2 linked regions of the Homo sapiens genome follow. The protein of the gene in region 2 interacts with the protein of the main gene of each other region in a pairwise test. Each region holds a gene or a part of one and is shown on either strand. Other genes may lie near its edges.

The links. The genes of interacting proteins can lie anywhere in the genome.
Region 1: the proteins of CCDC102B (region 2) and CEP57L1 interact in binary tests that used the Homo sapiens proteins (3 or more experiments, as listed by UniProt).

Annotation. Positions count from the first base shown.
Region 1 is NC_000006.12:109,154,507-109,158,006, reverse strand, and holds part of CEP57L1 (centrosomal protein CEP57L1), read right to left. Parts: intron 2,778-3,500; coding exon 2,700-2,777; intron 2,217-2,699; coding exon 2,130-2,216; coding exon of another isoform or gene 2,118-2,129; exon of another isoform or gene 1,210-2,117; intron 1-1,209. UniProt on the Homo sapiens protein: Centrosomal protein which may be required for microtubule attachment to centrosomes.
Region 2 is NC_000018.10:68,838,764-68,844,158, reverse strand, and holds part of CCDC102B (coiled-coil domain-containing protein 102B), read right to left. Parts: coding exon 5,233-5,395; intron 1-5,232. UniProt on the Homo sapiens protein: During interphase, forms fibers at the proximal ends of centrioles to maintain centrosome cohesion. During mitosis, dissociates from the centrosome following phosphorylation to allow centrosome separation. Contributes to CROCC/rootletin filament formation.

The sequences.
Region 1 (3,500 bases), on a different chromosome or scaffold from region 2:
ACAGATTAGAGGTTGCCAATGTTCAGGGAAGGGGATGTGTAGCTATAGAGGGATTGCATGAAGGAGTTTTTTAGTGGTGGAAGAGTTCTGTATCTTGATTATTGTGATGGTGACATGAATCTACACATATGATTCTCTCAAAAATCTACACATCTGATTTCTCTCTTGTAAAACTCTCCTACTGCTGTCAGTTACCATCTAAAATTACAACTCTAATCATGTCCCTACTCTTCTCAGAAGCCTTCAATAGTTCCTGTTTATAGAATAAAAGTTCAAACTCTTAACATGGCATTCAAGGTCAGCCATTAGCTCACCCCAAGCTATATTTTCCATTTTAACTTTCATTATGATCCCATCTCACCCCCACTACTGGACTATTACTTATAGGTCCCTGGAAAAACCAACAATTCCCTCAGACTATAACACATTTTTCCTCATCTCAGTCTGTCAATATTTAATTCTTCAAGGCTTCCTTTAATATTGCTCTTGAATTACCTTTCACATATTCCTTTGTCTACACAGCACCACAACACTTTGTTTAAACCTCTATTAATCTTCTATTATACTGTTTTATACTTATATATTTATCTGTTTCTCACAAATTCCTGTCTTATCTTTTTATCACCTAGAGATACCAGTCTATGTACATCAAGATGTAAGAGTTGAATGAACTATGTCCAGGACATGGAGAAACAGTGTGATGGGAAGCAGATCTCTCATAGAGGCTTCTTGAAATCTGATCCTACTTTCAGCAACTTTAGCACTCCCTCCATCTTTAAAAAGAGACATCATTATTTGCATACCCCGTGAACTTGGGATTTGAACTAAGTACTTCCATAAAATGATTCTGCTGTTAATTACTCTCTTCTCTTCCAGTAGTTACCTTTTCTTTCCTTCATTTCTTTTATCTTCTCCCTGTACCTTCACTATTTTTATAATAAATAGGTAAACTGAAAAAAGTTCCATTAACCCATCAGAGAAAGGATGCCATAAAACATACATACTGGGCAGTATGTGTTCCACTGGCAAATTACTTATAGTGATTTTTCTATTTGGCTTTGTAGCTGTGAATCTCATTGCACAAATAAGACACAAAACAAATATTTAGGAAAGGAAAGAGCCAAAATAAGTCATATTGGGGAAATATTGTTCGTTATTGTAGTTTGAAAATTCTTTAAAATGAAAAAATTATGAAAAATACAGCCCAAGTATTGAACATTAATTTTTATTTACGTAATAAAAGAGTAGCCAAAGTTAAGTTTACTGTTCTCTCCATTATTTTATCCACAAGCTAAGCATATGGCAGTGGCCAGAATTCCCAAATAGCATCTCCTGTCCCCCACAACAAATGGCACAGAGAACACTCACTCCATTCATATCTGAATAAATAGTAATAATGGCCATCAAAACCATAATTCCACAATCATAAGATTAAAAGGGATTAAAAACTTTTTTCATACCATTATATATAATTAAGAAGGGTTACTTGAATAGCATACATTCAAAACATCAATCCATCTAAACAAAATATTGGTCTATAAAGTACTAACTCTCCAATCCTTACTTTTGGGCAAATTCACAAGAAATAAGCATAGAAATTACATATAACAATAAATTCCCTATATAAATGACTTTACAGACTTAACAGGTCTATAAGAAAAACCTTATTTTTTATTGTCTATATATTACATAAAACTGCTTTCAGGATTTATTATGTTGTCAGTATCTACTGTGTTGTTTACTGCCTCTTTTATAAACTATCACAAAATATGTTTCTCCAGAAGTTTAAAACTAGAAAAATGTTAATCTTTCTAGAAAAACTGGAGTGCTTCCTGTTATTTCACAAAGATAGCTATACTGTCCATTATATGTTCCTTTTTGCTTTGGTTGTCAAGCAAACTCAGAGCTAAATTTTGTACATGACTGCTGCTACTTTTTTTAACCTGAATCTTATGAAATTTTCTGTCCTTATACCCCAAACCATCATCCATTACTTGACACGCATTATTGCATGTCTTTTATTTTATATCTTCAAATCCTTTTTGGAAAGGGGTAGGTATAAGGATTAAGAGGTTATATAAATAAGTATTAGCAGTATTTTTGTTTGGGAAAAAATTTTATATGCACACCTTTGAAGATTTCTTCTTTTCCTTGGAGTGCTTTAGATTTGAAACTGAAGACATTATAATTTTACTGATTTCAAGTCCAGTTTGAAGCTGTAATATTTAAAAAAAAGGTTATAACATTGATTTGTAACATGCAAAAACACTGTAATGAGATATCAGGTCTAAGTTTATAAATATAAAAATGCTTTTTGGAGAAGAAAAGAAAAGAAAATCCAAGATACCGTTTTTGTACATGTGAAGGTCACTAAGTCTATTGGTAATTACAATAATTTTCTGTTTATAAAAGAATAAATTATTTAATATATGTACAGAAATCAAACTGAAAACAATCTATCCTAGGAGTTCCTTCAACTGAGAATATATGTATTTGTCAGAATTTCAAAAGATTAAAAAAGACCTCTTGGTAATACATCCATGTATCATACTGGCTGACTGAGAATTTCATTATTGTAACGAAAAGACAATTTAGGAAGCAGAAATTAGAATCTAGAACATAGGCTTCAGTTAATGAAAATAAAAATATAATAAAACATATATGGTTTACTGTGATAGATTATATAGTGCTATATTTACCTCAGAAGCTTTGTCTTGAAATAGCTTACGCTGATGTTCTTCTTCCTTAAGTTTTTCTTCTAAATGTTTAATCTTGTCCTGCAAAAGAGTAAAAACTAAGATTGTTACATAAAAACTAGAGCCAAATATCATTTGTTTCTTTTCCAAATAGAGTCCTAGGGGGTCTTGATTCTTAAGAGTTTGGCAAATTAAGGCAGAAAATAAGAAAAAGGAATGGCACAAGATGTTAAGATTTTTCTTGGCTTTCTTCCCACTTCTTTCTTTGCTTCTTTACCTTCTATTACATACAAGAAGAACAAAGGGAAAGCAAAGAATATACACACACACAGGCTTTATTAACTTCCAGCAACAAAATCATTATGATGAAACTTTTAAGGGTACTAAAGGTGTAGCAGGTCAAACAATTATAGTCTTGGGTCTCAACGTTTCATTCAAAACATAAAAAAAAAATTCTACTATTTGCATATATGTGATAAGAGTGTACTTTTGGGAGAAGAGTGAAAAGACATAATAGAAATATACAATGTGGTCCTTGTTACTTAAGAGCTTATACAGATTGAGGATCCCTTATCTTAAGTGTTTGGAACCAGAGATATTTTAGATTTTGGAATATTTTCATTACTGGTTCGGTATCCCTAATCCAAAAATTCAAAATCCTATATGCTCCAGTGAACATTTCTTCTGAACATTATTATTAGTGTTCAAAAAGTTTTGGATTTTGGAGTATATCAGATTTTGGATTTTTGGATTAAGGACACCCAACCTGTATTGTATGAAAAGAAAAAAAGAGCAATATTCATA
Region 2 (5,395 bases):
TTTCAAAGAAAGTAATAGTTACCTCCTTAAATATACATCATAAAGAAAATATCTGATATGTATTTGTTTCCTAAAAGAAAAGTATGCATTTTTATTATGTAAAAGGTTACCATTTGGTTAGGGGAGTGAGAAAACAAGCAATTCATTAAAAATTATTTAATGACAATGGGATACTTAAATTTTTTTTTAGTATTTAGATAGCCCCATCATAAACTTTTGTGTCTCTGCCAGCATTAAGGACATTGTATGTCTAAATTTATGCAGCAGAGGGCACTCTATAAATCCTTAATTTTCTAGCCTAATCATTTTATTCTGTGTTTCAGAGAGATTTTCAAAATTGATGAATAATATAGTTCAATTTATAATTGGGATGTATATTATTGTCAGAGTATTTGAGCTACAAGAAGGCAAAGGAAAACACCTAATATTTACTCTAAATTGTTGCATAGTTTATGTACACATTCTTCATGAGAACGAAATTAAAAAGACAAAGCTCAGCAAAAATGTCGTATCTTTAATATGATGATATAAAGTTTAAAAAATAATATTGCTAAAGTATATAAAATTTGTAGAATCTAAAATAGAAAATGTGAACCAAAATTATTTTTATGAAAAGATGTGATTTTATTTCTATGCATTTTTTGATACTTTGTTTACTGTCACAATTCCACAATAATTGGAAATAAAATTTAAATTTCTAGACAAGAATATTACTCAAATATTTCTCATAGATGAAAGGTCCTAAAAATTAATATCTAGGAATAAATATTAATCATTGTTGAACTGTGTGAAATTTCACTGGAAAAAAATTGAATCATGATTTTCTGAAAAGGTGTATTAATATAAAAATGTTCTTACCAAATCAAATGATTATCTTGTAATAACATGCAGTTATTCATTTTTATAACAGTTCAAAATTTAGAGATAGTATTAAACTGTTAACAATACAAGTTTTTACAAATATACTTTAAGCAACATACATGTCATTTTGCAACTGCACTTCCTACTATTCATAATTACATCTTTCAGCACTGGGTGTTAGCACTCGGCTGTTGCAAACAGCCAAGCCATATACAGTTAATTTAATTAGAAAAGATAAGTGTTTAAAGAATATTGTTAAGCTCAGATCTCCAGGAGAATTATAGAACAAGGCTTGCAGATGAAGCGGACAGGGACCAAGACCAACTCTCATGCCACAAAACTGGTCCCATGAAGACCCCACTGCCTGTAACCTCCTCTGTCTGTTGCCTCTACACTCTCCTGGTAATATGTGTCTGGCAAGCAAACGTATTCAAATTAGCAAATTTGAGCGGAAATTGACATTATAGCTCAAAATATTTCTGGGGAATACATGCAGCCAGGAACACTGATGAGAAAGCCATCAAAATCTTCCTGTAAGCACACTATTTCGGCCACCATTAAGGTAGAGACATCACAGCGGGACCTCAAGATCACCAATACGGGACAGTGAGTGGTGTCACTAAGCACCAGAGGCCACCGCTGCCTCTGGAAACAAGTTGTCTTTATTGCTGCTGCTTCTCGCTTAGGTATGGATTCTAGATGCTGTCTATTGCCTTGCGGTATTGGCTTGGCTTAAAAGTCTAGGTGGCCACCTCTGATGCACTATTCCTAAGTCAAGTGTCTGTACCCTCATTGCAAAGGAAACCCTGGTAGAGACTTACTGGCATTTTTATAATCTATGCACAGGTGTAGACTCTGTTTCATTTGGCAGTGAATTGCCAAAACACAAAATAGACACTGGAGAGTCAAAAAATGGTAAAGGTTTATTGAATATTCCATGAGTGACAGTTAATAAAGTAACAAAATAAGCTTGATTTTCAAATATTTACAAATATTACATTAAATAGTATTAACCAGATTTGCATGTCAATGTATTCATTGAGGAATATATATATATATACTTTATATATATAATTTCTTAAATATGTAAAGTAGAAATCTGTGTCTTTCATACATATATAAAAAATAATATCCTTTGTAGCATTTTTAATTTGCTGAAGCTTCTAACCTGGATTTTAAATCTCATTAAGAAAAAAATTGAACATTTAATGAAGCATGCTACTTTTCTTACATAGAAAATAAATTAAGAAGACAAAATGGGCTGGGCGCAGTGGCTCACGCCTGTAATCCTAGCACTTTGGGAAGCCAAGGCGGTTAGATCACTTGAGGCCAGGAGTTTGAGACCAGCCTGGGCAATATGGCAAAACCCCGTCTCTACTAAAAATAAAAAAATAAAAAATTAGCCAGGCGTGGTGGCACAGCCTGTAATTCCAGCTACTTGGGAGGCTGAGGTGGGAGGATGGCTTGAGCCCAGGAGGCTGAGATTGCAGTGAGCTTACATTGCACCACTGCACTTCAGCCTGGGCAACAGAGCGAGACTGTCTCAAAAAGTAAAGAAAAGAAAAAAAAGATAAAATGATAAAATGGAAAGGGAGGACTGAAGCTCAGCTTAAAGGACACAGAACAAACATTTTACAAGTGATAAAGGAGGTCTCTGCAGTGAAATTTGAAAACTGATTCTGAAGTTTGGGACAGTTCAAATTATTTTATCTCAGTCTCTGTTACTTGAGATTTGGTATTGCCAAACCTCAGCTTCCCAAATGTTTAGGTACACATAGGCCTATAAGAGGATCAGCTTTCCTGGCCTTACTCCAAATTTTCTACCTGGGAAGTCTTTATGAAAGTCAACAGAAATATATAAATTCTCAGTATATGAGAAACTTTTATACACTGGATAATTATTCATAAAACTGAACAGTACTCAGAGTGCAAAGAAAACTATAAAGTTTCATCTATTTGATGAGGAGGTTCTAGTCAAGGACAATGGAAAAAAATGAGTCCCTGAGTTTTCTGAGTTGATTTCTGTGCACTAGTCAAGAAGAGAATTTTCCCACTAGATGGGAATGCAGAAAAAAATACATTCACATCTCAGTCGAAGCCACCCACTCACTGATATTCCAGGAAGAAGAATTTAAAAGATTAGATGGATTTATAAGTAATAGCATATCCTATATTCTTGGAAAATGTTCTCTTGTGATAGAAAAAAAGACTGATTGCCTCATGCGGATTGCATGCAAATGTTGATTCATGGACACAGGAACCATGACTCATCACGTCCGTGGGATTGTTTCTTAAAAGAGGAGAGTAGGAAGACAAAGCCATGGAAAGCTTCCTTTTTTCTCTTATTCTTTGGCCTGTCTATGGATTATAGACTGAAGTCACTGAGAACTGCAGAATGTACTTACTCTGAGAATTGTTCATTTATTCCAAGAAAGTAAAAAGTATATGTTGTGTATATGTATATGGATAAGCGTGTTAAGACAGAACATGCATATCTTTAAAACTGACACCTTAGAATAGAAGTTTACATCTAGAAAAACACAGCTCTGCATTGCTCCTATTAGACTGCACTGGGGAAGTAATATTGTATGTGGGCTGGAGAGAAGTCTATAATTACCAAAAAGTTAAATGCTTCAAGAAGTAAAACCACGGAGATTAGAATGTGACTGAAATGTATAGGGCTAGATAAAATTGTCACTATGTGTACGAGCCTAAAAATTAAATTCATTTTTATTCTGTTTTCTACTAATGTTGGTTGCCTCTATTAGGAATTTACACTTGGTAGAGTAATAAATATTTATTCTGTACATAGATACTTGTATGATCACAATCTACTAATCTAGTGAAATACAGATGAAGAATCTGAAAAAGGGAATTGGTGGCACTAGTAAATTTCAGAGGGACTAATGAGAAACTTCTGGCAGAAAGTAAGTGGTAAAGAACTTACTGTATTTGTGAATGGCTAGCATGCATATTTATCCCTATTTCAGTCCATTCAAGCCAGGAAAATTAAAACTGTTATATAATATATACTTATATAATACATTGTGTGTATATATGCATACATATCCTTCTTGCTTTTCTGGTTCTGCCTATTAAGATTTTTATAACTAAGAGATAAAAAATAATTATTTTTAGATTTTGGAACCTTATTTATATATTAGATATTCCACATTGTGCTAATAAAATTGTAAGCTGATTGCATAGAAACGAAAATCCATATTGAACATTTCATATTACTATTCTCTTTCCCAGATGTTATTTGTTCTTGATCTTTATGAGAATTCACTGAGAAAGGCTATGACAGACTGTATTTTGCAAAGATCGTTGCCACAATGACTGCATCCCACACACCCTTATTATAAAATTGTTTTCACACTCCTTCCATTGAAAGTGCCTCTCTCTCTTTAATCTGAGTCAGACTTTGAGATTCTCACCACCGATAAGTGGGTCTGACTTTTGAGGCAGAATCATTCAAATGGCGTTTTCTTCTCTCTGTGTTCTTAAGATGTTCACTTGCAACCTAGCCCCAATGTTGTGAGGAAGCCAAGCACCCCCTTAAATAGCCCCAGTGCAGGTGTCCCAACTGAGGCATAGATGAAAACCGAGATGGACTGCCAGATATGAGTGAAAGAGGCTGCAGCCCCCAGCCTTCCATGCATTGCCAGCCTTTGAGCCCTTGCAACTGAAGGCACAAGTGAGAGATACAATGTCCATGCCAAGCCATGCTCGCGATTCTTGAACAGAAGACAGGGTGGTTGCTGTTGATATGTTTTAATGATAATTACTTGGAAAAGTTTGTTTCAAGATAATAGATAACTGGAACATAACAGCACTACAGCTATTTTCACAAAGGGGCAACAGCCAACATCACATAGCTAGAAGACATCAGACCAAAGATGAATATCCAGGCCAATTAAGCAAAAGCCTGATGCCCTTAATGGTCCATGTATAAGACTACTTTTTCTGTAATAAATATCTCACAAAATTGTGATTTTTCCACTATTAATATTAACATATTTATTCATTTTTACTGACCAAGTCCAAGATGCTGTCAAACTTAAATAATACACTGGATATTTTAACCTTGTACATTAAGAATTCATATACAATTAAAGTGAATCTACCAGAGAAGATAAAAACATAGTCATGATAAAAGTCAACTTAAAAGAATGGAAAACACTAACAAGTTATAAACTACATTTTAAAATTCAACATATGAATATATATCAAACTAATTTCTTTAAATCCTAAAACTTAATGACTAAACATGGATAAAATACATTATCAAATGACCAATCTATCTGTATTAACAATTTTAAGTGATTTGAAACTTAGACTTGGTTAAGGGAGACAATGATTAGCACTTACTCTCTTTCCTTCCATAAGATTTTTTGGAATTCATCCAAATGCACCTGCAAAGCTGAAATTTCAGTTACTTCATTTTCCAAAGGCAGATTTATTGCTTTCAGTCTCAGCCCAGTTTTCGTTTCACCGTTTCCAGAACCACCATTGTTGAATAAATCAACACCAT